Homo sapiens: one gene and its partners. The protein of the gene in region 4 interacts with the protein of the main gene of each other region in a biochemical or structural test. Each region holds a gene or a part of one and is shown on either strand. Other genes may lie near its edges. The genes, in order: MAPK8, SH3GL2, RNF11 and ITCH.

Region 1 (8,672 bases), on a different chromosome or scaffold from region 4:
GAACCACCTATCTGAGGAACAAGCCTTCTATAAAAAAAAGTTCTGACAGCCTCAGTTTATACTTTTAAAGCCAAAAACATTAAGGCACTTGCCTAAAGCTCCAGAATTTGATGACAAAGTCCAGATGGCAGAACTGAGAAATGAACCTAGGTCTGATTCCTGGATTGCTCTAGCTCCACCTATTGACCTGAATGACAGGATAACTCATTTCAATACTCCTGTTACCTTTCAGTCAACTCACTTCTGAAATCAAAGTTCAACTTAACCTGCATTAAGAGTAAGAATGCAAGGCTTCTAAATGTTCAGGTAAAGAGCTCATGATTAAGACAATCAGCATCACAGTTCACTGACATAGGCAAATGATTCATATATAAAGCTATGTGGTTATAATGACTTCCTTGGACCACATGAATCAGAAAAGCTACTACCCATACCATTGACTTGACCAGAGACCTCTAGAGCACTGGAATCCTAATGTCAGACATTATTTTGTATTTCCACTCGTGCAACAAAGCATCTCAACCATGTAGATGACTGAAATATGTCAAAATTCAACCCGCTGGCAAAGCAGACCAACAAGAAGCAGGCTCCTATTCAACAACCTCTTAGCACTAGGATAGTTGGGGACTAGTCATTTAACAACAAATTCCTTCAAGTTGTTTCACTGAACATCTCATCCTCACAAGGTCACTTTGATAATATCAGGCATGGAGCAAATAGTTAAGATTATAACCACATTAATTTGTATACAATTTATTCTTGCACTGACTTCCTTTCCAAATGGCATTTCCCCCAGGATCTAAAGGAGTATGAAGGATATAGTTTCCTATTCTGCCAGGACAGGACATTTAAAAGGAGCCCTTTTCATACTTACTAAAGGAATATATTTACTAACAGAATCGATGCTATATCTCTTACTTTAAAGGATAATTTGAAGTGAAATTCAGAGTGACTGCTAATGGATATGGTGTTTCTTCTTGGGGTGATGACAATGTTCTGGAATTAGTGATGGTGATCAAGGCACAACACTGTGAAAATACTAAAAACCGAAATATATACACTCTAACTGGTGAATTTTATGTCAATTAAATTGCAATAAAGCTATTTTTAAAAACCAACAATTTGGAAAACAAAGTAACACAACTCTGGTTCTTTACACAGCCTGTGAGCTACTGCCAAAGGATTGTCAGTAACCCCTACTAGAATCTGACATACCCTAACTAGGTAAAGCAATAAAACTTTGGTATCTCAAAGATTTTCAACCATCATCTTAAAAAAGTATTATTTTCTTATTTCTTCATTTCCACTTTACAGCAAATAATAAGAAACTCATTAGTTAACTCATTTCATATTCTTTCAAATACAAAACAAACGCTAAACTGTATTTAGTAAGTGGAAAAGAGCTTTAACTTCGATAAATCAATTATTTTGAGTTTTAGGCTCATATTTTGTACCAATTGTGTTAATACAAGTTAGAACTTAAAACCAAACATTTCAAGTAAACATTTCTAAAATATTAGAAATATTTCTAATAAAACATTTATGTGGTTTTGTCCTCAATTTTCCACAATAAGAGTCACCAAAAAACTTTCAAATAATATTCACAAAATTATAAATGCAATCATTTTAGACCCCTACTGAAATACCAGTTTATGAGTGCCTGTGTGTGGATTACGTACATGCACACACACGGACACACATAAACTAGCACATACACAGAAACACACACTCCACAACCTACTTTATTTATCATATTAAAAAAATATTTAGACAAGATTTTATTTTAGGACAGTGAATGACCTACACGTGATTCAAAAGCCCATGTCATCATAACAGATAATGTACATGAACTGACCATTTAGCCATCTGATGCGACAGTTGCATGAAGCTTCCAAAACTTTATGGAGAACATTACGGTTTTTTTTAAGGCTTGATTTTAAATATTATCAATTACAAAGAGCTTTTCATCAATCCGACTTTTATTGAACACTTACTATATTCCAGGCTAGGTGGTGGAGAAACAGATGCAAGACAGGCCTGCCCTCAAGGAAGTCCCATTTTGATTGCTTGCTTTTGTCAGGCACAGCACTAAACATGTTCACTTAGAGCATCTGACCTCCTAGGTTTAACGTTAACCACAGCAGGGGAATCTGAGGTAACCATTACAAATGACTGTAAGGCTGCAAGACTGGAAAAAATAAAATTTAGAAATAAATAAAAGCTGTTGTATATTTAGACCAAATCTAATTCTACTTCCTATTACACTTGAACTTCCAGATATACTGCTTAAAAAATGACCCAGAATATAACCATACCTTCCTTAACAGACATCACTTATGTAACTGTCTCATTTAAAGGTCCATCTATTATACTTCAGTCAAAGCATCCTCTTCCATGAAAGGATACTTTACCTTCACACCAAACCTCTTCATCTGAGTACGGTACTAAACAGCTGCTGAATGAATGAATGAATGAAAAAACAGATGTTCTAATTGCCAAGGAGGTACTTGCTGGATGCTTATCTCAAAACACAATGGACTGACGGACCAGAATTCTACTGGAAAGATCGCTGGATTTCAGAGGTAAAAATAGTAATCACTGGACAATGCCATGTAGTCAACATGTTATTAAATTCGCAGTAAAGACCAAGCAGGGAACTTTCAGAAATAAAAACGGAAAGTGTTCATCAGGGTACTTTAAAATGGACTTGGTTCTACCATCTCTGAATCGGGAACACAAATGCGAGACAAAGAGATGGGAGGGTGGGGTGAAAAAGTCAAAAGGTCACCACCGATGACCCTCAAGAGAAATGCGCGCTGACCACCGAAGCTCGGGCCAAGCTGGATGGACACCTCCCACCCGAGCCACGGGCCTGGGCTCTCTGCCCTGCAGCCCAGAGCTGCAGGCCACTCTGGCCCTTTTCAGCGCTGCTGCCTGCGTTCGCCCAGAACGTTAGCACAAAGAAAGCATCGAGAAGCAAAATACGGTCCCTATGGGCGCGGGGCAGGCTTGGGGACCTGCCGGCAGAAGCGCTCTCCCCGGCTCCCCGCCGCCCCGGAGGCAGCCAGGGCGCGGCGGGCCGCAAAGACACCTCCGTCCGACCCTTGCCGAAGTGTTTCAGAACTTGCCACCCACCCCCCCGCTCCATTTTCTTCTCCCGCCGCGGAGGCAGGACCCACGCGAAGAGGACGCGAGAGGACAGGCGGGCGGGGCTCGCGGCGGCAGGCGGGCTGGCGGGCAGCGGAGCGCACCCAGGTCCCGCAGCCCCACGCCCCCTCGGCTGGCCCCCGCCTCCGCGCCGCTATTGTTCCCGCGCCGCCCCCGCCCACCGCGCGCTCCCGCCCCCACTCCCAGGAGGGGGTTACGGCTGAGGAGAAGGCGGCGGCGGCGGCAGCGGCACAATAACATAAACACGACGGGGCCGCCTGCCGTCCCGGCCCTGCGGCGTCCGCCGCACTCACCCGGCAGCGCAGCGAACGGCGACAGGGAAGCCCGCCAGCGGGGACAGGGGCCGTCCGGGGTGGTCGCCGCGGCCGTTACCCAGCGCTGCTCGCGGCTCCGCAATCCAAGCCGCGTCGTCCGGCCTCGGCCGCTCGGCTGAGTAACAGAGACGCGGGCCGTCACCGCGCACGCCCGCGCACGTCATCGCGCAGGGCCCCGCCCCCGCGCCTCCCGAGCGGCCGGCGGGGCGGGGCAGCCCCGGGGCCCGGATTGCGGGGGCGGGGCCGCCGCCCGGGGACGGCGCTACTCCAGGGGTTACGAGAGGACTTGCGGAGGTCGCTTGGAGGCGGAGCCGCGGAGAGAGCCTCCGAGGGCTGTGGGTGAGGGGCGTGGCCTGGAGCGGGAGGGGCGGGCCCTGTGGCGGCACGTGGCGGCGCGTGGCCCCAGGGGACCGCATCTGGTTGGCGGCGGTAGCCAGGTCAGAGCTTAAGCCTTCGGGCCTCGTCGGCACAGGGTTGAAGGGCAGGTGCGCTTAGGCCTAACCTGCGCAGCGAACAGGCACCCCCTTCCGGTACACACACCTGAGTGATGAAGAGCTGGTTACCTTGACCGACAATATGTTCCATTCTGAGGACACCTGTCCGGGTCCCAGAAACCTACAGAGAGATAAGTGTTCTCTTCAGCTGCCCGGGAAAAGCTGCCTCCAGTTTTTCCAAAATCCACCTCCTCCGAGATTCCTTGCAAATCCACCTCTTCCCAGATTCCTTGCATTACCTGGTTTACTTCTGAGGCCCCACAAAGCGTGTAAATGTTACAGAAGCGATAAATTGACAAGTCCTTTAAATATCCAACAACGGGTGGAAAGGCGTTTGAACTACCTACACCATTCGGTAGAATACATTTTAGCAATTTAAATGCCATGTGTTCAAGGAATTCTTAACAACATAGGAACATGTTCACAATGTATCATTAAGAGAAAGAAGCAAGAAACAAGTCATATATAGAATGGTCCCACTTAGATACTATATATACACATAGAAAAAACCTGGAAAGAAATACACCAAATTATGTTAACAATGGTTCATCATTGGACTATGGAATAAAGGGTGACTTGGTTCTCGTTTATACTTTGGGTATTTTCTCATGTTTTCCGAGAGGAATAGTTATGTTCACAATCAGAAACAAGTAAGTTACTTTAATAATGAATATATAAATATTTGTTGAATAAATGAATGATTTCAGGTAAACTACTTTCCTATTACATGTGGGGCTGGCCTGTTTCTGGTGATTCTGAAAGGGAACATACAGATGATTATTCATTCATTCTCTTCCCATTTCCTCTCTCCCTCCCTCTCAACCTTCTTAATTTCCTTCCTGCCATCCTTTGTTCCTGCAATAATTATTTATTGCATGCCCATTCAGTGCCAGGCAATACAGTAGAGTTTACAGATTTAATCACTGTACTATGAAAGTAATAATAGTAAACGCAAAATTATCACTGTTTTATAATACAAATTGTTAAGGATACATAATACTATGAAACCAATTAATACACTAGTTAATAAGGCCAGAAAAGATTTCCCTGAGGAACTGTCACTTGAGCTGGGAATAGGTTTGACTAGACAGAGAATATTTTAGAGGTAGCTTTGCACGCAAAGGTCCTCTGATGAGATTAAGCAGGATAAGATGGAGAAATTCAGGAAAGGCCAGCTCTGCTGGAGGAGCAAGGAAGAAGGAGCTATGAGATGAAGTCAGGAAGATTGGTAAAGGGACCAAACGTAGGACATCCATATTGGCCATGTTGAAAATCTTTTTATCCTAAGTGCAATGGGAAGCCCCTGACATATTCAGCAAAGGGTGTGGCATGGTCAGAATAGCTTCTTGAAAAGATTCCTTATTGGAAAGAGCCCAGGTGGATGTAGGAGTAGCCTAGACGGTAAGAGGTGGAAGCTTGATCTAGGGTGATGGTCATGGAAATAGTTGATGGACATGGAAAGATCTGTGAATTATTTAGGAGGTCCAACGGGCAGAACTTGCACATTCTCCAAGTGATGGGTTATGTGGGGCAATGAAGGAGAGGGAGTCATCAAGGAAAACTCAAAGGTTTCTGGCTTGTGGCCAAGGATGGATGTTAGTGCTGGTTTACCAAGATGGGAATCTTGGAAAAGGACCAGACTGGCATTAAAATATCATGAGAGCAGGCTGTTTGGCTGTTTGAAGGCTTTTGAGATGCCCAAAACTGATGTTAAGTTGGTGGTTGGATATACAGAGCTGAGGTTCAGCTAGTTAAGAGACGAATCATTGACAGTGAGTGATTCCTTGAAGCCTTGGGATAGATGGGTCAGCCTAGGCCTGAGGAGAGGGCCTGCAACCAGGCTTGGGGAACTTCAGTGTTAAAGGGCCACAAAGGGGAAGATGAGTCTGTGATGAGCTGCCAGGGAGATAGAAGGATAACCAGGAGAGAGGTGTTCAAGAAGAAAGGGCTGATCAATAATATTAAACATAAGAGGAGGCTTGGAATCCTGGAGTAATAGAACCAGAAGTGAATTAGAGTGGGCTGGGAAATGAATGGGAGGTGAGAAAATAAAGGTGGTGAATATGGATGAGTCGGGCAGTGAAGTAGGACACAAGCATATTTTACATCTGATGGGAAGACTGTTGAGAGGGAGAGGTTGAATACACACAAAAGAGAAGGAAGACGTGTGTTTCCAGAGAGAACGGGGTGTGATTGAGTGCACAGACAGAGGTACCACCTACTCTTCACCAGACAAATTAAAGGCCTGGAGGTAACAAAAAACAATACAACCCTTAGAGCTGTTGTGAAGTGAGGGGAGTTGCTGGGAGCAGAGCTCCAGAGTTTCACGCCCAGTTCTGTGATGCTATTGTTAATAACCGCCTCTGTCTCACTCCACAGAGTGAGCTTCTGACTTAGTATCAGTCTACCATGGTCAGCTTCTGATTATCTACAACTAGAAAGAACATTCCACATATTTACATATGTGCGTTTGTGTGTTTGTGTGTGTGTATGATTGATTTCAGAAAGCATTTTGCTATTTCTGATGGAATGTAATTATCTCTGATATTCTGCAAATTCAAAATGCTTTTCTGTAACCCAGATGCAGTGTTGGGCCTTCTTCTTCCTTTTCATGCAATTCTTTCTTGTCAACCTGTTAGGGTTCCTTGTTAACCTATTAAGGGGCTGACTCAGAAAAAGAGGAAAATATAGTGAATTCAGGTTTCTTGTCTCTTGTCCCAGGGGAGCTGTCTTGGGGACACCTGGTCTTTGGATACCTCTGAGGCTGGGATGGGGAAAGGAGAGAAGAGGAACTGTAGGCCTTTCAAACTCAGCCTCTGCTGGAGCCCTGAGGGATGTTCAAGAAGAGGTTGCACTCCACCAGAGTATCTCTTCCCTTGTCATCCCAGACCACACACAATGGATTGCACTGAAGATGTTTCTTTGGCTAAGGTAGTCAGGTGAATATCACCAAGCTGTTCAGGGTGCAGAAACTGAAAGCTGAGACTTCAACTTACTTCCTAATTCCCTGACCTCACCCCAGGGGTGGGGAGTTGGGTTGGTGGGAAGGTACTTACCAACTAAAGCCTGCAGAAGGGCATCTCCAAGGACACTCCCTCTCCCCTGACTCCACCTCCACCACCATCCTTCTCTGTTAGCCTTGCTTTCAAGCCTCCCAGTCTCGTCTCCCACCCATGTCTCCAGTCAAGTCTACTTTTCCCCCAACAGGAGGGAGAGGTTCAGCACCTTGGTCAGTCAGTCCCTGACTCAGGGATGTTCTTTGAGAATCTTTCAAGGTGGAGCCTGCTGGCTCCCGATAAAGCAAGACAGACCCTGGATGCATGAGTAGAGGAAAGATGAGTGTTCGTATTGTAAATCCATCCTCCAGCTGCAAGAACTGTGGCTCCTCAGGGGTAGGAAAGGGCCAAAAATGGCCCGAGCTCCTCAGTCGCAACTTGAACAAAATGAAGTGGAGACAGAATGGGCAGAACTCTGATTTGAAGTTACAAGTGGTACCCTGTTTTTGCTTACAGGTACATGCAAGAGAGAACCAACTAAGCTAGTCAAGTTTATAGATTGAGTACACATGCATATTTCCATGGGAAAAAAAAAAGGTCAGCATTTATTCCTCTAAGACGATGGTTTTCAAATTGTGGTTCCCCAGACCAGCATCAGCTGAGAACTTGTCGAAAATGCAAATTCTCATACTCACCTTAGACCGGCTGAGTGAGAAACCTTGAGGAAGAAGCCCAGCAATCTGTGTTTTAATGAGCCCCCCCAAGGCATTTCTGATGCCCATTTGAGTTTGAGAATCCCAGCAGCAGGACACTGACTCACAAGTCACCCTGCTCATTTTAATCACCTGGGTGGGGAGGGGCTTTAAAACTGCCCACACCCGGCTGAACGTGGTGGCTCACAGCTGTAATCCTAGCACTTCGGGAGGCCGAGGCAGGTGGATCACAAGGTCAGGAGTTCAAGACCAGCCTGACAAACATGGTGAAGCCCCATCGCTATTAAAAATACAAAAATTAGCTGGTCGTGGTGGCGCAAGCCTGTAATCTCAGCTACTCAAGAGGCTGAGGCAGGAGAATCACTTGAACCTGGGAGGTGGAGGTTGCAGTGAGCCAAGATCACACCACTGCACTCCAGCCTGGGTGACAGAGCAAGACTCCGTCTCAAGGAAAACAAAACAAAACAAAACACTACCCACACCCAGGCTCCATGTCTGGTGCTCCTTCTCCAGTGGTCTGGGGTGGAGCCCAGGCTTCTGTAGCTATTTTCACATCCCCTCAGGTAATTTTAATTTGTAGCCAAAAATGAAAGCCAGTGCCCTAAGAAATTTGGCGTATTTTCTGTTTTTTTAAAACCTCAGAGCAACTGGACAGAACATCTTGCTCTCCATTAGCTTTTGTGCTTTCATTCTTTATTCTTACTTTCATTATTGGTTCTTTTTTTCCAATGTTTTGCCCACCTCCCACATCTTACACATATGCTAAATTGTCCTCTCTCCATCCACACCCACTGCCTTAGCTTGGGCTGCCATCACAAAATATCATAAACTAGGTGGCTTAAGTGACAGAAATTTATTTTCTCAAAATTCTAAAGGCTGGAAGTCTGAGATAGGAGTTTGCCAGTATGGGCAGGTTCTGGTGAAGTCACCTTTCTCAGCTTGCAGACAGTCACCTTCTTGCTGTGTCCTCACATGGCACAGTGAGAG
Region 2 (6,818 bases), on a different chromosome or scaffold from region 4:
CACCTTCCACCATGATTGTGAGGCCTCCCCAGCCAAGTGGAACTGCGAGTCCATTAAACCTCTTCCTTTATAAATTACCCAGTCTCGGGTATTTCTTCATAGCAGTATGAAAATGGACTAACAGAAACTTAGTATATTTAATTACAACTATTCATGTTAGATTAGAAAATCTGGACTATTGGCCTCAGCACAAAATAATAGAAATGGCCCCTAATACACAAAGAACATGTTTATTTTCCTGGGAACTCAGAAAATACACATTTTGTGTGCCTTGCTGCTCCCCTATTCCCACTCACACCCCAAACATATACATCAAGAGAAAATAATACTGGCCTTTTTTTTTTTTTTTTTTTTTTTTTTGGAGGCAGCATCTTACTCTGTCACCCTAGGCTGGAGTGCTGTGGCGTGATCTCGGCTTACTGCAACCTCTGCCTCCCAGGTTCAAGTGATTCTCGTGCCTCAGTCTTCTGAGTAGCTGAGACTACAGGCATGCACCACCATGCCCAGCTGATTTTTGTATTTTTAGCAGAGACGAGATTTTTCCATGTTGGCCAGGCTGGTCTCGAACTCCTGACCTCAGTTGATCCACCTGCACTGGCCTCTCAAAGTGCTGGGATTACAGGTGTGAGCCACTGCACCTGGCCTAATAGTGACTTTCGATCAAACTATTTTTCCATGTCTATTTCTTTATCTTCAATTACGAAAGAAAATAAGAGGCTACTCGAAGGGATATATTTTATTTCCCCTTCCTAACATTATATTCTTCAGATGATACCACTTTTAACAATATATCATTTAACATCTATGAGACCTAATTCTCCTTACTTTCTTCTCTCCCAAATTCTCCTCCTTCCTGGGGTTACCAGGAAGGTCCCAATGTCCAGGCTAGCTACTTCCTTGCTGCTGAAACTTTTCCTATGTGTAAAGAGGTAGATATGAAGTTGGAGCCAGGTCTTGTTTGGCTGCATGAGAAAGCAATGGAGACTGAAACCAGCCCCCATCCACCCAGTGTTAGACCCAAAGAACTGACACAAAATGAAGGAGCAGAGCCTTTGGTTCTGTCTTCAGCAATATTTATTGGAAACAGCGATGCTTCCTGTGGTGAGAGTTTATACATTAAGCAGTAAGATTTGCCTTTCACTCCACATGATCCACTACTGCAGGTGGCACATCGGAAGCAGCACGTTAAACCTCTGAAAGAGTCTGTACAGCTAGATAAATAGAACTCTGCATACCTAACAGGACTTTCATGACTGATACAAATAAAAAAACACACTGATAAGCTTACACACAGCACTGTACACACAAAATGAAGACGATGGATAGAAAGGGCAGAAGTAAAAGTAGCGACTGAATTGGGAAAGAGTTTTGCATATGCAGCCATATACCTTAAACTGCTAAGCACAAAAATCATCTTTATTTGGTCCTCATTGAGGGCAGAATCTGCACAAATGATGTTCAAAGAACACAGGGTAAAAGTGGAAAGGAAAGGTATTTACTGTTTCTCAGTATATGAACTAGTGGAAAGATGGTTACTAGTGTTTTCTTCCTTGTGTCTCTGTGCCAAATGGATTCATGAAACATGTAATTCACAAATAAAACTGAAGTGAAGATATTTGTTCCCCCTTCCCTGTGCCCTTCAGAAATAGCCTAAATACATACATAGTTTCTGTATAGCAAGAAATTTAAGCTTGGATACCAGATTTCTTCCCAATTCCTCATAATGGAGAATTTCTTTTCAGTCCCTCTCACAATAATGCTGATTAACTGTCTTACTGAAAAATAATTTGGAATTACCGCTCTGGCTTTAATAGCAAGGAGGGAAGAAAACTGGCTATACGTCAGAAATAGCCATAAGTGTGAGGAGCTGAGATGCCTATTTGCAGAGAATGCTTTGAACCCACAATTAACACTTTTCTATGGATGCATTAAGAGACAAATTCATTCAGATCAGGAGACAATTTGCTGGTGAGGGAAGGCTTACTTTGACAATTCCATGACTCACATATTTGGGAAGGGACAGTGTGAAAGCAAAAGCTTTCTCCTCTTTGCATGGAGAAATGCAAAGAGACCTTCAGATGGCCCCTGGGGTGATAGACAATATCTTCGGTGGGATGGTTTTTCTGTGAAATGGCTCATGGTCATATTCTAAGAAACCACAGCCTCCTGAGAACTGTGTAAACAGCAGTTCTGTGACTACTGGCTGGTCTCAGATGATGTTTTAAAAAGCACATGCCACGCCCACCAGGCTAAGAGGATATCATCCATCACCATGACTCCTGTGGGAGCCCACAAGTCAACCAAAGTCACTTGGTGGGGCTGGATGACGTGGACCACTGCGGCCTGCACTTGGGATGTGTTATAAGCAGCATTGCCAAAGCAGTGGTTAACCGTAACTATCTGGGTCAAGAGGAGGCGAGCCAGCCAGCATAACATCCTAATGGGGCAGGGCAACCAGAATTTCCACATAATTGATGGGGAAGAAGCCTGAATGGCCATGCAGCATCCCCTCATACCAGTTCTCATCAATTTGGTTAGTGAGTGTGATGATATCGCCCTCTTTAAATCCCAACTCCCCTTCATTTTCAGGTTCAAAGTCGTACAGAGCTCGGCAGCAGGGCTGATCCATTTGGACACCTGGGAGTAAGAGCAGGAGAGAAGAGAAGAACACAAAAGGATAAGGGGTATTTAACTCACAGAATCTGCTGCCTGCTGTACCCACCTGGCTTGCTGCTCCCCGTCTTTCCTCCCTCATTCCTCTTCCTGTTGAAGCTTCTTCTTGCTACTGGACCTTAGTGTCCACTGCACTGGGCATCTTGCCCTCTACCAATCCTCAGAAGCTTTCTCGGACCTTTGGAAGTTGCTGCATATTCCTGTTTCTGTTTCCAGTATGAAAAACAGTCACATCTATTCTTGTGATACATACAACACAGTTCATTATAGTTTGCCTTCGTGATAATGCCCAGAAATAGGAGGGACAATGACTTAAGAAGAATATAATGATGTAGGTTAATAACACAGCATGGCAAGAATTCTCTCATCTGAGCACTTTAAAACCTTTGCATATCTGAAAAAGTATGGTGAATTACATGGAGAATGCTTTTAAGTAACAGTTCGGTTATCACTCTTTAAAATGATAACCCCAGCCTCTGGAAAACTGCTGTAATGTGGTGAAAACGGAATAATATAAAACACTGAGTTCAAGTTTTTACTTTCTGTGACCTTGCACATGGTACTTCGCTCTCAGTTTCACTGTCTGAAATTGGATGTAACAGTAGGACTTACTTCACATTACTACTGTGGCTACTAAATGAGATTATGTAAAAAATTTTGTAATTTATACTTGGTAAGGTAAACTGTTGCATACATAAATATATGCAGTGCACTGGAGCTATGGCATACAAAAATAATGTACTCCACCTTGAGTAAAATAATGAAGGATGAAATCATATCTTAAGAGGGATCTATTCCAAATGACCCGCTGTATTAATACTACATACATACACATGTAGATACAGACTCAGACAAGTGCACACAGTTCCCATGCCATCTAGGTGGCTGGAAAGGAAACAATGTAATTTATTTTTTTATTTAGAGAAAGAAGCAAATTACTGAGTCTCCAGATGAAAAGTGAAATATATGGTTGGTTTTCAGACAGGGAGAAGCATAGCTATACACAATTTCTGTGACTAGTCCTGGTGGCCAGCTCCAGGAGCCACAGCTGCTTATGTCATGCCCTGAAGTGCTGAGCGCAAAGGACAGAGAGCACCACCTGCCGGCTCAGACCTCGCTTTTTTTCTTAATAAGTCTCCTGAGAGCATCTTATAAAAAGTTTTCTACAGTAGAACATCAAGCACTGGGGATACAGGAAAAATAAAAGAAAGCTACCTATCTCTAACATCCACATCCAGTATAAGACAGTTCCCACTTCAAACAAGCAAATGTGGAGGTTGAAAATGTCTCCAGCACAGGCTGTTGTGTAATCTGCGTGTAGGAGTGGAGAGCAAGTGTGACAAGGTAAAGAATGCTCTATTTGGTATGCATCGATATTCCTGAGATAAAATGTCATCTAGCTTTTATTATATCAACCCCAGTGCCACAGCATGATAAAGTGATCAGAGGTGAGGCATGGGAAGGAAAACCCAGCAAGTGTCGAGTTTCAAAATATCATCTTCTACAAATATATTTAACCATATGCTTCTGTGACTCAAGAAATCCAGCTCATCAGCACATTTCTGGAGCCGCTTGCTGTCTGTGGGTTATATGCGAATGCATGTGGGGACACACTGTCCAGGGGCATTCACTGTCATACAGGCTGGATTCAGAGCGAACACGCAGGAGAAAAGATGACACTCGCAGACCAAACTGACAAGGAAAGGCGATTTACGACCACAAAGGAGGGTCAAAACAAAATGTGTTCGTGTGTGCTGATGATTGACAGAGAAAATGGGATATACAAAGAAAGTTTTATAGAGAAGAATGAGAAGGAAGGAAAGAAAAGGTAAATGAAAAAAAGACAAAAGGATTCCTTTAACAGAGTTTCTACCTGACAACTGACTCCATAAGAAATGTATTACTGCATATTTCCTATGCAGCCAGATTGGACTATTCCTAAAATTTCTGGAAGAGTGCCAATGGATATGCCAAGGGCTATGCAATAGGATCTGCAGTTTCAGCTCTTACCTGAAGGTTTGGGAGTGCCTGTGTGGGAGAGACCCCCATTGGGCTGAGTACTGTCTCCAGTTGGAAACTCCAGGCTCATTCGTGGTTTAGGTTGATATTCCCTTCTAGGCTGAGATGAAGCCTGTCTTATTCTGCAGTAAAAAGAAAAGTGGTGGAAAGGTTATGTAACCAGTTAAGAAGTAAAATGAAAAGCAAATATAAAGATTCAGGAAATGCTTGGGTCACCCACCATGCTACCATGATGAAGTGTGGGAAATCAAAAAAGGACCCTTAGTTTTCTTGTATGTATATGTCTGAGATTTTGGTGATGTCCCTTTATGGGGCCATGTCCTCACTGTCTTCATTCTCTCTCTCAATCCCTCACTTCCTCTCTCATTTATTCAGAGTCCTTTATCCAAATACGCACTGTGCTAGGTACCAGGAACACAAAAATGAATTAAAACACAGTTCTTGTACACAAAGGATAAATGCTTGAGGGGATGCATACCCCATTCTCCATGATATGATTATTATGCATTGCATGCCTCTATCAAAACACCTCATGTATCTCATAAATATATACACCTATGTACCCACAATTTTTTCAATTTTAAAAAAGACACAAACAGATTATGGTCTGTAAGGGAGACAGAACACAAACAACTGATTACTATAAATTTTAGTAAGCACTGTCAGAGATATCTACAAAGTGCCACAGGAACACAGGGGTGTGGTTGTGGGTGAAGGTGGGAAGGAGTCTATCTCTCCATAAGGAAGCTGGAGGAGGTTTAAGGAGAGAACTAAAAGATACACAGGAGCTGTTTCCAGATGAAAATGTGAAAGGGAGCTATTCTATTCAGAACATGAGAAGGTTTGGACAGAGGGAAGGAGGAAATATACTGTGTGCTCTTAGAAGAATGAGCAGTTTGAAATATAGGGAGGAGGAAAGGAAAGAGGGAAGACAAAAGGAAATTGGAAAGGTATGGCTAATAATTGTCTTCTACATACCCCTAAATATTTTCCAAAGTTTCAGTTATTCAATAAACAAAGTATGTAAGAGATATGCAAGGGAGGGCGAGGGTTTAGGGTATGGTAACTGTAGAATGATACTGACTTTGAACATATTTCAGAGGAAAAAAAGGAAAGGGCTCCCTTCATGCTCAAGAGACATTACAAAGACACATAGTATTTCTTTAGTATCTTTGAAGTATATGGTTTTAAAACCTTTCTGGAGGCTTCAGCATTACATAAATTTCCATAAGGCTGCGCCGAAGGAAAATGCTCAATTAAACCATGAATCAAAGAAAATACTGAAATGAGATCAGCCTGAGGGAAAACAACGAAAACAGGTGTGGAATCGTATGATTGGTGTCTTCTTCACGCAGGCAGCCATGTGATCAGCTGTGAGAGTCTAATCTGGCCATGTGGCCTAAGAAAAAAGCTTGCTGAGGTGACCCTTTGAGGTATACATGTTCAGCAAAATCATCCTGTTTAATCTGGCTAAATTAAAATAACACATATTATAACATAGGGCCACTGGTATATAGCCAAACAGGCTGTGCCCCACAACTCCACGGAGCCACATTCACACGGTAGTTTCCTACTACTACAGCCCTGCTGTGAGGTACATCTAATGAGGTGAAAGTAGCTCTCTCTGATGGCAGAGGACTTGACCGCCATTCAGAGAAACACAAGATGTGAAAAGAAACAGCCTCTCACACAGGTTATGGCTGGCTGTGAACTCCACTTGCACCACTGAGTGACCCTGGGCTAGTTACTTCACCTCTCTTAGCCTCAGTTTACTCATCTGTTAGTCGAGGCTAAAAACACTTAGGTTACAGGGCTGTTATAAGATTGATGATGATATGTATCCAGTACCCACATGGAATAACTGCTCAGCAAATGGCATCCATTATCAGCAGTAGCATCCTGGTGTTCCACCTGTGGCAGCCAAAATATAATCCAAGTATCGATCTCTCATAAGCAGAAAATTAGATTCAACAGAACAACGTAAAACAAAGCACAAGAAAAAACAAAATCAAAACAATCCACAAGGCGCCTCTGTAGGATAAGCGGAATTTTGGCAGACGTTTGTCTCCAAATGTATTCTATGATTTCCATTTCTTTATACATCATTTTATAGCAATAAAATGCAA
Region 3 (8,285 bases), on a different chromosome or scaffold from region 4:
AGGGACATGCGTGGAAACAAGGGGTACAGATTATGTAGGGTTTATGCGACACTATAAGGAATCTGATTTTTACTTTGAATGAAACAAGGATCCACACAGAGGGTTGGGGAGACTGTCATGCTCAGTTTTACCAAAATAACTGTGGCTGTTGTATTGAGGACAGGCCTTAGCGAGGACAAGGGTGAAAGCAGGGATAACTGTTAGGAGGCTACAAAAGAAACCATGGAAAGAAATATACACTTCCTACAAACTTGGATCATAATGGTGCAGGGATTTACTTTAAGGCAAAAATAAATAAAAACAAATTTGTCAGATGTTAATAGGAAATAACTGTAACTGGCTCTTGTCATTATATGTACATTGTACATATAAAGCAGCAAACAATGACATCTTTTAACTACTCACCTCAAGAGAACATGTTCCTTTACAATCAGCTATTCACTGTTAATTACATATAATTTGTTGAAAAAGTTACTTTTATCAACTGAGAATACTATAAATCTGCTGTGTGAGGTAGCTAACGCCTGTAATCCCAGTCTTTGGGAGGCTGAGGGAGGAGGATCACCTGAAGCCAGGAGTTTGAGGCTGCCAAGTGAGCAATCCAGTCTAACCTGGATGACAGAGGGAGATTCTCAACTCAAATAAATGAATAAATAACCTTGGATTGCTGTTTCTCAGATCATCTAAAATAACCATTCCTAAGACAGATCTTATTTCTTTGGGGGTGGGGGACAATACTTTTTCTCCAAAAGTTTCTTTTTATGCTCCCATGTTTTAAAGTAATTTTCTTCTGATTGATACTGAATTTGTATATTAGTCTGCGTCATTCACTTCAGGAAACTGCAACCATAAAAAACTCCCACTGTCAAAAATATAACATTTCCAAAAAAAGTTCCTTCATGACACCAAAAACCCCTCATCCCTCATCATCACCTAGTTCTTCTGGAAAAGGCAAACACAGTTTCCATAAATTCTAGTACCTTTAATAGTACAATTATCATAAGGATAGGAGAAAGAGAACAAGTCAAAGATATTCAATTAAGAAAGGGGATAGGAGGCAGGAGAATTTGCTTGAGGCCAGGAGTTCAAGACCAGCCTAGGCAACATAGGAGTCCCTGTCTCTATTTTTTTAAAAATAGAAGGGGGTGAGGGTAGGGAGCATAAGAGATTTTAAAATAAAAACTTCATGCCAGATGCGGTGGCTCATGCCTGTAATCCTAGCACTTTGGGAGACTGAGGTGGGTGGACTGCTTGAGGTCAGGAGTTCAAGACCAGCCTGACCAACATGGTGAAACCCCGTCTTTACTAAAAATACAAAAATTAGCTAGGTGTGGTGGCACGCGCCTGTAATCCCAGCTACTCAGGAGGCTGAGGCAGGAGAATCGCTAGAACCCGGGAGGTGGAGGTTGCAGTAAGCAGTGAGATTGTGCCACTGCACTCCAGCCGGGGTGACAGAGCGAGACTCCATCTCATTAAAAAAAAAAAGTTAAATAAGCACTTTTGTTGTATAGTAAACATAGGAGGGAAAGACAGTGAAGGATAAACATAGCTTGCTTGCTTCACTCAAAGGTACTTGTAAAGACACCCAGATTCAGCTTTGATTTTTAAGAGACTACCCTGTGACAACTTACTTTGGAAAAAATATTTGTGTAAATACAGAAAATACTAAATTCAACTTCATTAATTAATTCAGCATTTAGGTGCTTATGTGCCAGAAACTGAGCGAGGGGAGAGTCCCTGTTCTCAAGGGCTTTTACTCGTAATTTATCTCCCAGTTACTGAGTCCCTACTGAGGCAGATGCGAGGGATACAACAGCAAACCGGAAACACAGATTCTCTACCTTCACGCAGCTTGCACTGAAGGAGGCGATTACAAGGATGAGACACACATCTAACAAAGATACAACACTAAAGTGTTATAGATATTGCTTATGGAAGTGTAGAGGTTTCAGTGGGGACACAAGGGATTCGGGCTGGGAAGGAAGGGAATGCTGGGACTTCAGACATGAAAGCTGAGTTCTCAAAGAGGATTAGATGTCCACCTGGCTGACCCGGGCGAAGGGCTCCAAGCAGAGAGGAACTGGAGCAAAACAAAGCTGTGAACAGCCTGGTGTATTTGGTAGGCCTGGAATATAGAACGTAAGAGGGAGAAGTCATGGAGGCTTCTGTAATACCACAATCAAGACTGGACCTTACTGGTATATATGAAATGCCCCCAGAAGAATTTTATTCAGAAAACGAGCATATATATGATCAGGTTTTTCTGGTGTGATGAGACATTGGTTTACACAGGAATGAGAAAAGAAAACACTAGATAATGATGTCATCACATGAAACAACAAAGGAGCCTACCCAGTCAGAAAACTAAACTCTTCAGGAAGAAATTAAGCACTACTACTATTGAAGCCCTCTGGAAAAGGGTGTATTCAATATCATCTAAAATGGAAAAAGTACAGGAAAGGTTTTCACACATCTATTGTGGATTATAACATCCACATACCTATTTTGAGTTTAAGAGGTCTTCACTCGAATTCTGCAACACATCTGGGACTACTGATTATTGTACAAAAAGCAGTACAACGTATTTAGGAGAGTCTTTGATACAAAGGGAGAACACGAGTAACCGAAGGAATTTCCCAAGCCAGGTTTAAAGGTTTCCAAAGTTCAAGCTAATCAAGTTTTCTTAAGTCAGCACGTTTAAAAGGTGTGTCATATGGGTGGAGCAAAAAGAGGAGGGATTAAAATTTATATACATATATATATATATATATATACACATATATATATATATACACACACACACAAGTAACTCGATGTCGCTAGGGTTAAAATCACCACTTGGAGATCCGTCTCCCAAGCAGAGGGAAAACCTGCCAGATCCAATTAACAAAAAGACGAGGGAGGTGGGTAAGAGGACGACCACACATGAAAACATAAATGGGGCGGGGGGGTGGTGCTTGGCAACCACCTATCCAGAACCCATAATCCAGTTGGCGGTGCGATGAGGAAATCATACGATTCAGACATAAAGACAGGAAAATGTCACTCCCAAACTCCACAAGCGAACCACCAGACACTGGCCAAGGGGATGTGATCACATACTCTGATCCCAGAACTCAAGGGCAGAGGGTATCATCCCCACACGGTGCCCGAGGGCAGGCGAAGAATCAACCTTACTCTGAGATCAGAGAGCAAATGCCCTCAGATCCAGCCCTAAGGGGTCAATGCCGCCCAGGCCAGGCCTTGCCGAAGCCAGGGGCAGAGACGGCCCCGAAGCCCCCTCAATCTCCGCCAGAGCTGCCTCTACTCGCTCCCCCCAACACACACCCTCCCCTACCTGATATGGCGGCGGCGGCTCCTGATCCGGCTCCGTCCCCTCGCCAAAGCTAGCCCGGTCGGACTGAGACTCGTGAAGCAGGGAGATGTCATCCGAGGTGGGGGATTTGAGGCAGTTCCCCATCTTCCGGAGCTGGGGTGCGTGATCTGGGGGAGGAGAAAGCAGCGGTGGGGTCGTTCGCACACTCCGCGGTCCGCCTCGGTTGGCGAGGTGGGGTCGGGCGACAGGCCGGGGATCAGGCGGAGGCGACTCCACCGCCCCACGGTGCCGCCGAGGGGCCGCTCATGCCAGCCCCCGGGGTTGGGGGATCAAGGCTGGGCCGCGGGCTCCGCTGGGGTCGCGGCGTTCGCCTCCTGCGAGGCAGCGATGGGGGGGGGGGGGCGGGGAGACGAAGCACTTCCCCACCCCGCCCCCCCGCGGGGCGGCGGCGGCCACGGAGCTGCTGGGCCTAATCCAGGTCAGCGGGGGGGGGCGCGGCCGTCGCGGCTGCCTCAGCTGCTGCCTCAGCTGCTGCTGCCCCCGCCGACGCCGGAGCCACGGCCGCGGGCCTCATCCTACTCCGCCTCAGCGAGACGGCGGCAGCCAGAACGAGGCCGGCTCGGGCACTGCGTCATCGCGCCGTGCGTGCTCTGGTCCCGCCCCCGGCGCCAGGAGGCGAGGGCGGCTCCGGCGGCGCCCATCCCCCTCTCCACTAGCAGCTGTTCTCGGTGCTGCGTCAATTTTTGCTTCTCTCTGACTGCTTGGCTCCGTACCTGGCTCCGAAACCAATCTCCCGTCTCCCGCGCCTCCCCACATTCATTGCTCCTGCCCCGTCTAGGGCTCAGTTCTTACCTGTGCACTGCCTGACAGTCTTCTCACCACCCTCCGCCAAGCGGTCTATTTATATAAACCCATATCGGAATGGATCAGTCCCATGATTAAAATGTTAAAAGCTTCCCCTTTATCCCTTCACAATAAAGTCCTAGCTCGTTACTGAACCATCCCTGCCTGTCCAATCACGTCCTTATCCTTCCACATCACAGCCAGAGAGATTATTCTTCCAGTTGTATATCAGATTGTTCATTTCTTTCCAGTCCCAGCACCAAAGTCCAAGCCACCATCATCTCTCACCTTGGCTTCTGCAATAGACTCTCAGCTGTTCCTGAGTTCATCATTGCCCACATCCAATTCACTGTTGGCACAGTTGACAGAGTTATCTTTTTAAAATTTAAATCGGATCATGTCATTCTCCTGTTAAAACCTTCAGTGTCTCCTCAAGGCTGTCCTTAAGACAATCCTTAAATGGTTTACAAATCTGACTCCCTTTCAATCTCATTAGCAGCATTGTCACCTCCTTCACAAATTCTAAACTAGACTCTCTAAAATGCTTTTCGTTATCTGGAATACTATTGCCTCTGCCTGGGGCCTTTGTCCATATTGTTTCTCTCACAGAAACCCACTTCCCTCCACTCCCAACCTTTCTGCTTCTCATCAGGCTAATCATTATTCTCAGGAATCCTTCTGGATGCAACTTCATTTCCCCTGGGGAGACTCTCCTGACCCTCCAGTCTGGGTTAGTCGCATCCTGTGTGCTCTCAGACCCTGAGCTTTTCTCTGTCACAGCCTGATCAAGCTGAATCATCTGTCCCTCTGTGCAAGGCTGGCACACTGCCCAAGGTAGAGTATGCTCTCTCCTTGGTTGAATGAGCAGCTCAAACAACATATGCAAAAGAAGGAAGCAAGAAGGATGACAGTGCTCCTGATAGACGTTCATTCAACAGGTGGATCTTGACTGCCTTTCGTTTCATTCACCATTTACTGAAGTTGTGTGTGCGTGTGTATACCAGACCCCACGCTAAGGACTGGGGAAAAGGATGATCATACCTGGCTTGTTCCTGATAGAGCCCAGAGACCACCTGGGAAGACAAGTAATCAGGTGAGTCCTAAGCCCACACCCTGCCACGGACCCCAAGGTTTTTAGAGGAACTGAAAGACAGCAATTAGTTCATTTGAGTGAGGAACAGAAAGGATTCTTAGAGGTAGGGCTATATTAAACTCGAATGGGTCTGAACACTCTTACTCTGCAGTCCCTATTCTACGAAGTCACTATCTTATTTAAATGCACTCAAATTCCACATTAAATATCACCTTTTTGATATAAAATTTTTGAAAAGACTCATAATTTTGGGCCAGGCGTGGTGGCTTACGTCTGTAATCCCAGCAATTTGGGAGGTCAAGGCGGGTGGATCACTTGAGGTCAGGGATTCGAGAGTAGCCTGGCCAACATGGTGAAACCCCATCTCTACTAAAAATACAAAAACTAGCCAGGTGTGCTGGTGCACGCCTGTAGTCCCAGCTACTCGGGAGGGTGAGGCAGGAAAACCGCTTGAACCTGGGAGGTGGAAGTTGCAGCGCAGTGAGCCCAGATTGTGCCACTGCACTCTAGCGTGGGCGAGGGAGTGAGTAAGACTCAGTCTCAAAAAAAAAAGGAAGGAGAAAGAGAGAGAGAGAGAAGGGAGGCAGGAAGGAAGGAAAGAAGGAAGGGAGAGAAAGAGAAAGAGAAAAGAGAAAGAAAAGAAAGAAAGAAAGAAAAGAAAGAAAGAAAGAAAGAAAGAAAAAGAAAAAGAAAGGAAAGAAGGAAAGAAAGAACAAACTGACTCACAATTTTGGTTTTGGAATTGTTGAGCTTCCAAGAACTCATTTAATTTATGATTGGCTAAATTTACCAGAAATCAGAGGTACCCTGGAATTTTTACAAAGTGAGAAAATTTACCCCACAAATTATTGTCAAACCTAAAGAAATTTTTATTAATAATAATTTATACAATTATTTGACATAATATTTACACAGTGCTAGAATTTGTAGACATTGTTTGTTTGTTTTGGAGACAGGGTCTCACTCTGTCACCCAGGCTGGCTTGATCGAGGCTCACTGCAGCTTCAACCTCCTGGGCTCAGGTGATCCTCCTGCTTCAGGCCTCTCCAGTAACTAGAACTACAGATGCACACCACCATGCCTTGCATTTGTTTTTGTTTTTGGTAGAGACGAAGTCTTGCCATGTTGCCCAGGCTGGTCTCAAACTCCTGGGCGCAAGCGATCCTCCCGCCTCAGCCTCCCAAAGTGCTGGAATTACAGGTGTGAGCCACTGTATGCCTGGCCAGACATAGATTTATTTAGTTAGTTTTAATTTTTTTTAATTTTTATTTTTTGAGACAGAGTTTTGCTTGTGTTGCCCAGGCTAGAGTGCAATGGTGCGATCTTGGCTTACCGCAACCTCTACTTCCCCGGTTCAAGCAATTCTCCTGCCTCAGCCTCCTGAATAGCTGGGATTACAGGCGCGCACCACCACGCCCAACTAATTTTTTGTATTTTTAGTAAAGACGGGGTTTCACTATGTTGGCCAGGCTGGTCTCGAACTCCTGACCTCAGGTGATCCACCCACCTTGGCCTCTCAAAGTGCTGGGATTATAGGCGTGAGCCAGCTCGCCAGGCCAGATTTATTTTTTTAAGTTTTGTTTTTCATTCTTTTTTTCCACAGGTGGGTAACACTGACACAAGCCCTTGAAAAGTTCTATAGTGCCTTGTGAAAATAAGTTATATTGTTAAGTTTAAAACTAGCTTGGGCTGGGTGCAGTGGCTTACGCCTGTAATCTCAGCACTTTGGGAGGCCGAGGCGGGTGGATCACGAGGTCAGGAGTTCAAAACCAGCCTGGCCAATGTGGCGAAACCCCATCTCTACTAAAAATACAAAAATTAGCCGGGCATGGTGGCATGCACCTGTAATCCCAGCTCCTCAGGAGGCTGAGGCAGGAGAATCACTTGAACCTGAGAGGCGGAGGTTGCAGTGAGCCGAGATCACGCCATTGCACTCCAGCCTGGATAACAGAGTGAGACTCCGTCTCAGTAAACAAACAAACAAACAAGGCTAGTTGTTCACCAGAAGATGGGAGGAGCATTTGAAGCCCATTAATGGCTTGGACATGGTCCCTGCCTTCAAATAGCTCAAACTCAAGTAGATGAGACAAGTAGGTGAACAGTTAGCAGGGCTACATTCAGACCTTTATATTTGTTCTACTTTTATTTTTAACTTTTGCTTCCATGAGCATATATATATCACTACCTCACAAAGGTACAGCTTTAGACCTCTGTGTCTGGTGAGAGAATAACTGTTGCATATTCCCCTGAGCTCAGAGGAAATGATATTTTAGAAAAGATGAATGGTTATTGACCATTATTTTTTTGTGGATGAGTAAAATATCAGCTACAATTTTAACATAGTTTAAAAAAACGATAGAATTTTGTTTTGTTTTGTTTTTGTTTTTTTTGAAACGGAGTCTCACTCTATCACACAGGCTGCAGTGCAGTGGCACAATTGGCTCACTGCAACCTCCACCTCCTGGGTTCAAGTGATTCTCGTGCCTCAGCCTCCTGAATAGCTGGAATTATAGCCGGGGTCCACCATGCCCAGTTAACTTTTTGTATTTTTAATCAAGATGGTGTTTCACCATGTTGGTCAGGCTGGTCTCGAACTCCTGACCTCAAATGATCCACCTGCCTTGGCCTCCCAAAGTTCAGGGATTTCAGGCATGAGCCACCATGCCCGGCCATGTGGTCTTGATAATAATGAATAAAACTACCAGAATAAAATTGTATCTATCACTTATGTAGTGCTTCCTATGTGTCAGGCACTGTCCCAAATGCTTTACTTCTGTTCATTTAATGCTAATTAAATGATCTGCAGAGTGACTAGGGCCTAACACAGCATGGCTCTTTTGGATACTCACAAGCTAATCAGATGTGAAAATAACATTGTCTTTGGCCCAAGTTGAATAATAGCCATCATAGCAAACTCTTATAAAACACTCTCTGTTAGACAGCATGTGTTTTATTTGCCCTCTCTGGTAATTCATTCAACCCTCAAAACTCTATGAAATGGACACTACTGATATCCCCATATTACAAATGATG
Region 4 (8,259 bases):
TTGATTATGAACATAATTCATAAATGAATCGAATGACTTCACGATTTCTACCTGCTTGGTTATTTAGGGTGGTTTCCAATATTCTGATGTTATATAAATAATAAAATAATGAATATTCTTAATGTAGCAAACTGTTTCTTCCTTTGAATTGTTTCTTTAGGATAAATTTCACAGAGAGGATTATGAAGGGTATGTATTAATACATAATTATGGTGGGCAGATGCAGGGAGGATGACAGGGGCTGGCTCTGTTGCCCAGGAGTACAGTGGCATGATCACAGCTCACTGTAATCTTGAACTCCTGGGCTCAACAGATCCTCCCACTTCAGACTCCTGATTAACTAGGACTACAGGTACATGCCACCATGCCCAGCTAATTTCTTTTTCTTTCTATAGTGATGGGGTCTCACTATGCTGCCCAGGCTGGTCTCAAACTCCTGGCCTCAAGCGCCCATCCTACCTTGTCCCCCCAAAGTGCTAGGATTTCAGGCATCAGCCACTGTGCCCAGCCCCGGCAGCAACTAACAACGTAAAGTTCCTCACCAACACTTGATATTATCTGCTAATTTAATAACTAAAACAGTACCTTTTCAGGGTATATTTCCTTCAGATTACTAACAAGGTTAAGTATTTTTCCATGTTTGTTACTGACTTTCCTCTGGATTAAAAAATATTTTTTCTTCAATTATTTTATATGATTTTTTTTTTTTGACGGAGTCTTGATCTGTCGCCAGGCTGGAGTACAGTGGCACAATCTCAGCTCACTGCACCTCCACCTCCCAGGTTCAAGTCATTCTCCTGCCTCAGCCTCCGGAGTAGCTGGGACTACAGGCGCGCCACAACACCCAGCTAATTTTTGTATTTTTAGTAGAGACGGGGTTTCAACATGTTGGCTAGGATGGTCTCGATCTCTTGACCTCATGATCCCCCCACCTCAGCCTCCCAAGGTGCTGGGATTACAGGCGCGAGCCACCGTGCCTGGACTGTAATGTTAATGTTAATGTTAAAGGCTTAACACCATGTATTAATATATCCTTAACTTCCCCAATTAATTTGAAATGATTTTGCTATTATAGTTTTTTAAATATAATAAGAACTTCATTTTAATATATGACTGGGCTCTAATTCTTATTCATTTAAATAATTACTCTTGAAGAAACTAATACTTAAACTACAGTATTAGTAAACAGGTAAACAGCTTAGACAAGAAAAGTTAAGGAAATTTTTTTTTTTTTTTTGAGACAGAGTCTTGCTCTGTCGCCCAGGCTGGAGTGCAGTGGCGAGATCTCGGCTCACTGCAAGCTCCGCCTCCTGGGTTCATGCCATTCTCCTGCCTCAGCCTCCCAAGTAGCTGGGACTATAGGTGCCCGCCACCATGCCTGGCTTTTTTTTTTTTGTATTTTTAGTAGAAACGGGGTTTCACCACGTTAGCCAGGATGGTCTCAATCTCCTGAGCTCGTGATCCTCCCACCTCGCCCTCCCAAAGTGCTGGGATTACAGGCGTGAGCCACTGCGCCCAGCCCACCTAAGGAATCTTTAGGTCAGAAATGAGTGAAAATAGGGCCAGGCATGATAGCTCACGCCTGTAATCCCAGCACTTTGGGAGGCCAACGCGGGAGGATGGCTTGAGCTCAGGAGTTAAAAACCAGCCTGGGCGACATAGCGAGATGTTGTTTCTATAAAATAAAGAAAAGAAGAAAGAAATATGCGTGAAAACAAAAATTGTTTATCAGGCTCTGAATTAATCAGTTGTCTAGCTCTCTTCTTTTTAATTTGTACTTACCACAAAACAAAGTGGACAGAGAAAGGGCTGACAAGAAAAAGTAAAACAGAAATGTAGGGAAGATTATACAGTTGTAATCCACAATTCTGACTAAATAAAATTATTCTTTTTAAATTTAGATACTTACCCAGGAGGTAGAGGTTCTGGTCTATCCCATGTTGTTCTTTTCTCAACATGATCTACATAGTAAACTCGCCCGTGCTGGTCCACTCTCTGCTCCCAACTTAAATACAAAATTAAAAGGCTGGTAAAATACTTGCATGAGTTACCTGGCTTTTTAATCCTGTCTTTGCATTTCCATTAAATGACCATTATTGAACTAAGGCAAATAAGGACATCAGTTTAGAAAGATGATACAAATACAATTTAGGAATAAAGTGAAGAAATGTAATCTTCAGGCAGTGGCACACAGTGAATTCAATTTCTTCTATGCAAGTATCTGCTCTAGGAGAAAACATATTCCTGAAGAGGCTTGAGGTCCGTCTACCTAGGATACCGAAGTCACTCTCAATCAGGGTATAATCAGGATTTGAGTGGAAAGAAATGGCCAGGCGCAGTGGCTCTCACCTGTAATCCCAACACTTTGGGAGGCTGAGACGGGTGGATTACTTGAGGTCAGGAGTTCAAGACCAGCCTGGCCAACATGGTGAAACCCCGTTTCTACTGAAAATTCAAAAATTAGCTGGGCATGATGGTGGGCACCTGTAGTCCCAACTACTCAGGAGGCTGAGGCAGGAGAATCACTTTAACCTGGGAGGCAGTGGTTGCAGTAAGCCAAGATTGCATCATTGCACTCCAGCCTGGACAATAGAGTGAGACTCCATCTCAAAAAAAAAAAATTAGCTGGGCATGGTGGCAGGTACCTGTAATCCCAGCTACTCAGGATGCTAAGGCAAGAGAATCACTTGAACCCGGAAGACGGAGGTTACAGAGAGCTAAGATCCCACCACTGCACTACAGCTTGGGCAACAGAGCAAGATTTCATCTCAAACAAACAAACAAAAAATAAACAAGAAAAAATTACACCTGAGTATCTTAAAAACAATCTATGAAAATAATCTTAAAATAATCAGGAGAGATTAAAATGGGATTATGAGCACAAATTTTCTCAGTTTTCTGAATTATCTATCACTTTGCTATGATTTTTCTTTTTTCCCCAAGATGGAGTTTTGCTCTTGTTGCCCAGGCTGGAGTGCAGTGGCAAGATCTTGGCTCAATGCAACCTCTGCCTCCCAGGTTCAAGCAATTCTCCTGCCTCAGCCTCCCGAGTAGCTGGGATTACAGGCGCCTGCCACCACACCCAGCTAATTTTTTGTATTTTTAGTAGAGATGGGGTTTCAGCATGTTGGCCAGGCTGGTCTCGAACTCCTGACCTCAGGTGATCAGCCCGCCTCGGCCTCCCAAAATGCTGGTATTACAGGCGTGAGCCACCATGCCCAGCCTATAATGATCTTCTGATGAAAAAAATAGTTTGATATTAAAAAGGGATTTTTTCCCCCTTAAAGAAAAAGGCAATTGGAATTAGGTGATTATTTTATTAATTGGCCTTGGTTAACTTTCAGGGTCCTTTGATGAAAAAATATATTTTTCCACTTTGCCCTGAAGATTTCAAATATGGTGTGTTTTCCTTGTTCATTTTGACTCCAGATCCCCCAAAATCAGTTACAATAACATAAAAACAGTTGGCTGGGTGCTCATGCCTGTAATCCCAGCACTTTCAGAGGTTGAGGTGGTCGGATCACTTGAGGTCAGGAGTTCGAGACCAGCCTGGCCAACATGGTGAAATCCCCTACTAAAAATACAAAAATTAGCCGGGCTTGGTAGTGCACACCTGTAATCCTAGCTACTAGGGAGGCTAAGGCAGGAGAATTACTTGAACCCAGGGGGCGGAGGTCGCAGTGAGCCAAGATCACACCACTGCACTCCAGTCTGGGAGACAGAGCACTCCATCTCAAAAAAAAAAGAAATTAAAAAACAGTCATCAAAACAATGGAGTTTACTGTTGTTTACTGTTATTTTCCTTATTAATAAGTAGGCTTATGAAGAATCCTAAAGACAACATATGTTAATTTAAAAAGTTACTCACCCAGGTGGCAAGGGAGCTTGAGTTACAGGATTTAATGGCCTAGGGCCTGAGCCTCCAGATATAGTAAGAGGAATTATTAATCCAGATGTTGCTCCTTCAGATGTATTTGTATTTGTATTTGTCGGCGGCAGAGAGCCTGTACTAGACCCATCACTTTCAGAAGTGGCAGATGGTGAACCATTGACAGATGCTATAAAAGATTTGGGGAAAATAGGAAAAGAATCTTTCATTTTCTAAAATTCAGGATAGAATTTTAACTGTAAAAAATAAAAGGCAGATGATAAATATAAAACTTAAGATGTAGATGCACAGGTGAAAATTACTTAAAGAAATAAGTAATGGGAAATAACCAACGCTGCCAGTTAATAGGCTTGTTTACTTTTTCGGTCCTGTCTACCCCTATGTCCCATTACTAATCACGAAGCATGTACAGGTTCTCTGATCTTCTGATGTCACTGGAAATAAAAACTTTTAGAATAGGAAATTATTAATATTCCTTGGTATTTTAAGTTCATTTATTAATTTTCCAGCTCCTTAAAACTGCTTTCCTGTGAAACCGTGCAGATTACAGACCAATTTTTGATGTTGGTTATAATATGGAAGGTCTGATAAGAAATAACATTCTTACAGATAGTTAGTAGTCATACATTACACCTTTAAGAAATACTTGTGGACAAAACAATGTCTAGAGGAAGTCACCAAGATTATAATAAAGACATCTTAAAGACTCAGAATATACAATTAATCAAATTATCTATAAAAGGGGAAGATGTGGCTGCAGTGGCTTACGCCCGTAACTCCCACACTTTGGGAGGCCGAGGCAGAAGGATCACTTTCAGCTCAGGAGCTCCAGACCAGCCTGCGCAACATGGCAAAACTCCATCTCTACAAAAAATATAAATATTTAGCCAGGCATTGGTGGCTCATGACTGTGGTACCAGCTACTCGGGAGGCTGAGGCTAGACAATCACTTGAGCCTGGGAAGTAGAGGTGGCAGTGAGCTGAGATGTCACCACATTCCAGTCTGGGTGACAGAGTGAGACCCTGTCTCAAAAAATAAAAAAATAAAAAGGAGAAGATGTATAATTGAATAGAAATTCACTTAAAATTATTTGCAGAGAACTAATGTACTTTTCTAGTAATATTTGGTTTAACTACACTGCATTCCCTGCCCACATATTAGCAGAGAGAAACAATAAAAGGTAAGATTAAAGATTTGTTCTGGCTATCAGAGAAGTGGATAGTCTTATAGGTGTTCACATTTTTACTACCTAAAATATGCTTGTTTGTTGTGTACTTTTTATTTAAAATCTGGGTCATTTAGCATTGTTGGGTTTTCGTTTACTAACTTTTTAAAGGATATACTAGGAATAAGCAACCAAATCCTTGAGTATTTAATACATTTATGTTATAGTTACAAACCATTTAAGAAAGGTACAATGTTATTGCCATGTTATCTGCACCGCCTATACTTTATATTACGCACATGTCATTTTCATTCTCAGTAGAGCACTGCCTCAGTAACGTCACCTTGAACAAAAACTTAGGAAAAAGGCACTTTTGGTTACCTACAGAAAGATCATTCTTTTCCAAAATCTTAAATGTAAAAATACACGCAGAAAATTCACCTAAAAGAATTTCCTGACACTTACCTGAGGATTAATTGCCAACCAGGACATTATTTCCAAGAGTATTGAGAGCTGGAATACAAACCTGGTCTACGTGGGGTGGGTGGTGGTGGTCGTGAAGGTCTTGGAGGTCTAGAAGGTTTAAAACCACCATTTGAGAGTGATGGAGAATTATTCCCACTGACTCTCCTATTTTCACCAGCTCCTGCATCTTCAGGGTCATCTGATCCATTTGTGCTCACTCTGGGTAAGAAGAGGGGAAAAGGAAGGGGGAGAGGGAAATAATGAATACTCCTTGAATTTAAGAAAAAAAACAGCAGGAGGATGAAAACTTCTAAGTTTTTAAGAGCTTCAAAAAAGCTTTTTAATTTCTGGTCAGCCTTATTAAATACATAAAGAGCCTTTGGGTAGAATCCTATATAACCCCCAGAGTTCATCTAGAGATAGAGTGATGGGTTGTCCAAGGGCATAGGAACACTTGTGGCCATTCAGAACTATTAGGTATGCTGGTTCATATTTCAAATAAGCCTTCAGAAGGCCCTATATGAACAGGAACAAAGTCAAGTTCTCAAAATCCTTAGGGCACTATTTTATCACAAGCACAGATAACTTTACCATTGTTGTTTCTTGATTTCCACTGGCTATTAATTCAAGTTTGAGGCAGGTCTGGTTTTCCCATGCTAGGAGAACAAAGTGCACGTATTTCCCAGGGACTAGGCCCTGATATCCCCCAGCTCAGTACAATGGTACACAAAATGTTCAAAGCTAGTGATTTAGAGTAGAAGTAACCACAGACTTTTTTTAAAGGAGCTGTCATTTCTTCAAAGCAATGACATCAACTGGAGGGATAGAAAGGAGGGAAGAACACTAACAGGAAATGTCAGACTGAAAGCTACTGCTACTGTTGGCTAAATATAGCTGATTCCTTTTCCTTCCAGAGGGGCTCTAGTCATAGATTAGAAACAAGGGCATAAGTAGCCAGTCTGCAGATGTCTCAGCCAAGGCTCTGGTATGTACTACCTCCAAACCACTACACAGTACTAACCCATACTCCTAGGAATTTCAGAATAAGCCTGAACAAAATAAAATCTAATAGATTCAACTAACAGAGGCCGGGTGCTGTGGCTCACGCTTGTAATTGCAGCACTTTGGGAAGCTGAGGTGAAAGGATCACTTAAGCGCAGGAGTGACAGATCAGCCTGGGCAACATGACAAGGCCCTGTCTGTACAAAAAAATTTAAAAAGTAGCTGGGCATGGCAGGGCACGCCTGTAGTCGAAGCTACTCAGGAGGCTGAGGTGGGAGGATTGTTTGAGTCTGGGAAGTGGAGGTTGCAGTGAGCTGAGCTTGCGCCACTGCACTCCAACCTGGGAGACAGAGTGAGACCCTGTCTCAAACAAACAAAGAAACAGAGAGGCAGTACCATGTATTAAATTTTTTTTCTGTAAAACATGTATTGCAATGATTTATTTTTAATAAAAACAGTATAACATGATGTTTTGATATACATAGTGAAAAAAAGTACTACAGTCAAGCTAATTAACATCTCTCTCTCCTCACATAGTTTTTTTCTTTTTCCTTTTTTTTTTGAGACAGCGTCTCATTCCATCGCCCAGGCTGGAGTGCAGTGGTGTGATCTCGGCTCACTGCAACCTTCACCTACCAGGTTCTAGCAGTTCTCATGCCTCAGCCTCCCGAGTAGGTAGGACTACAGGCACCTGCCACCACGCGCAGCTAATTCTTTTGTGTATTTCGTAGAGACAGGGTTTCGCCATGTTGCCCAGGCTGGTCTTGAACTCCTGACCTCAAGCAATCCTCCCTCCTTGGCCTCCCAAAGTGCTACAATTACAGGCACGAGCCACTGCGTACCAGTCCTCATATTTTAAAAGACATTTTCAAACTGTGTACCACAGAAATCCTTTAGGGCCTTTCTATTCAAAGTGTGGTCTTTAAACCAAACGGACGAGCACTATACAGGAGCTTGTCAGAAATGCACAATCTTCAAAACTATTCTAGACCTACTATATCAGAGCTAGCATTTTAACAAGATCCCCAGATTATATATGTGGACAGTAAGGTATGACAAGCACTACTTTGGGGGTTCCCCAAATGCTTATAATAGAGGGAACACCTCAGTAATTGGCAGTCAGCACCTGATTAGTGTTGACTACCTGCAGAACATGGTCTGAATGCAGGAAGAGTCAGCTTTGACACTGCTTCTCTTCTTCTAAGTGAGGTTTCCAAAACCATTTTAAGACTGCGTATTGCCTCTCCATGCTATTTTAAGACGTTCCTAACTAGTTTGAAAGAAGAGTTCCTGCTGCTTTTTAAATAACAGATAACAATGAGTAGAATAGACCAAAAATTGGGAAATTAAGGTTTCTAGCTCTGACTCTGCTACTGATGAGTTATGTGACCCAAGAATGCATCCTAAAATGTATTATCTTGACTACAAGATGCCTAAAAATCTTTCAGCTAGAAAATTCATACTAAATTGCACATTCAGTGCTAGACAAGTTTTAGGGATATGTGAGGGAGAAGGAACATTCAGTGCATGAGATAAACCTACTATGATAAAGGTACAGCAGAAACAGGATTCCAAAAATGCTATGATTTGTTGCTGGGGATTAAAATTTGGGGAATTTTAACATCAATGCTGTACACCCTTATAACATTTTGATCTCAATTTTTCAATGGAGTCATCTGATAACCCGTACAACTCCTTAAATTTCCTTGATACTTAGAATTGTTCCTCTTCCTAGAT

The links.
Region 1: of the proteins of ITCH (region 4) and MAPK8, one has a biochemical effect on the other in vitro, tested with the Homo sapiens proteins (2 studies listed by BioGRID).
Region 2: the proteins of ITCH (region 4) and SH3GL2 form a complex in vitro, tested with the Homo sapiens proteins (2 studies listed by BioGRID, with this or other methods).
Region 3: the proteins of ITCH (region 4) and RNF11 form a complex in vitro, tested with the Homo sapiens proteins (2 studies listed by BioGRID and IntAct).

Annotation. Positions count from the first base shown.
Region 1 is NC_000010.11:48,301,611-48,310,282, reverse strand, and holds the start of MAPK8 (mitogen-activated protein kinase 8), read right to left. Parts: upstream 3,607-8,672; 5' UTR 3,462-3,606; intron 3,055-3,461; exon of another isoform or gene 1,995-3,054; intron 1-1,994. UniProt on the Homo sapiens protein: Serine/threonine-protein kinase involved in various processes such as cell proliferation, differentiation, migration, transformation and programmed cell death.
Region 2 is NC_000009.12:17,791,363-17,798,180, reverse strand, and holds the end of SH3GL2 (endophilin-A1), read right to left. Parts: intron 4,815-6,818; coding exon 4,684-4,814; intron 2,638-4,683; coding exon 2,438-2,637; 3' UTR 1,057-2,437; downstream 1-1,056. UniProt on the Homo sapiens protein: Implicated in synaptic vesicle endocytosis. May recruit other proteins to membranes with high curvature. Required for BDNF-dependent dendrite outgrowth.
Region 3 is NC_000001.11:51,231,932-51,240,216, reverse strand, and holds the start of RNF11 (RING finger protein 11), read right to left. Parts: upstream 3,945-8,285; 5' UTR 3,461-3,944; coding exon 3,338-3,460; intron 1-3,337. UniProt on the Homo sapiens protein: Essential component of a ubiquitin-editing protein complex, comprising also TNFAIP3, ITCH and TAX1BP1, that ensures the transient nature of inflammatory signaling pathways. Promotes the association of TNFAIP3 to RIPK1 after TNF stimulation.
Region 4 is NC_000020.11:34,435,954-34,444,212, reverse strand, and holds part of ITCH (E3 ubiquitin-protein ligase Itchy homolog), read right to left. Parts: intron 5,740-8,259; coding exon 5,582-5,739; intron 4,059-5,581; coding exon 3,869-4,058; intron 2,006-3,868; coding exon 1,910-2,005; intron 1-1,909. UniProt on the Homo sapiens protein: Acts as an Acts as an E3 ubiquitin-protein ligase which accepts ubiquitin from an E2 ubiquitin-conjugating enzyme in the form of a thioester and then directly transfers the ubiquitin to targeted substrates.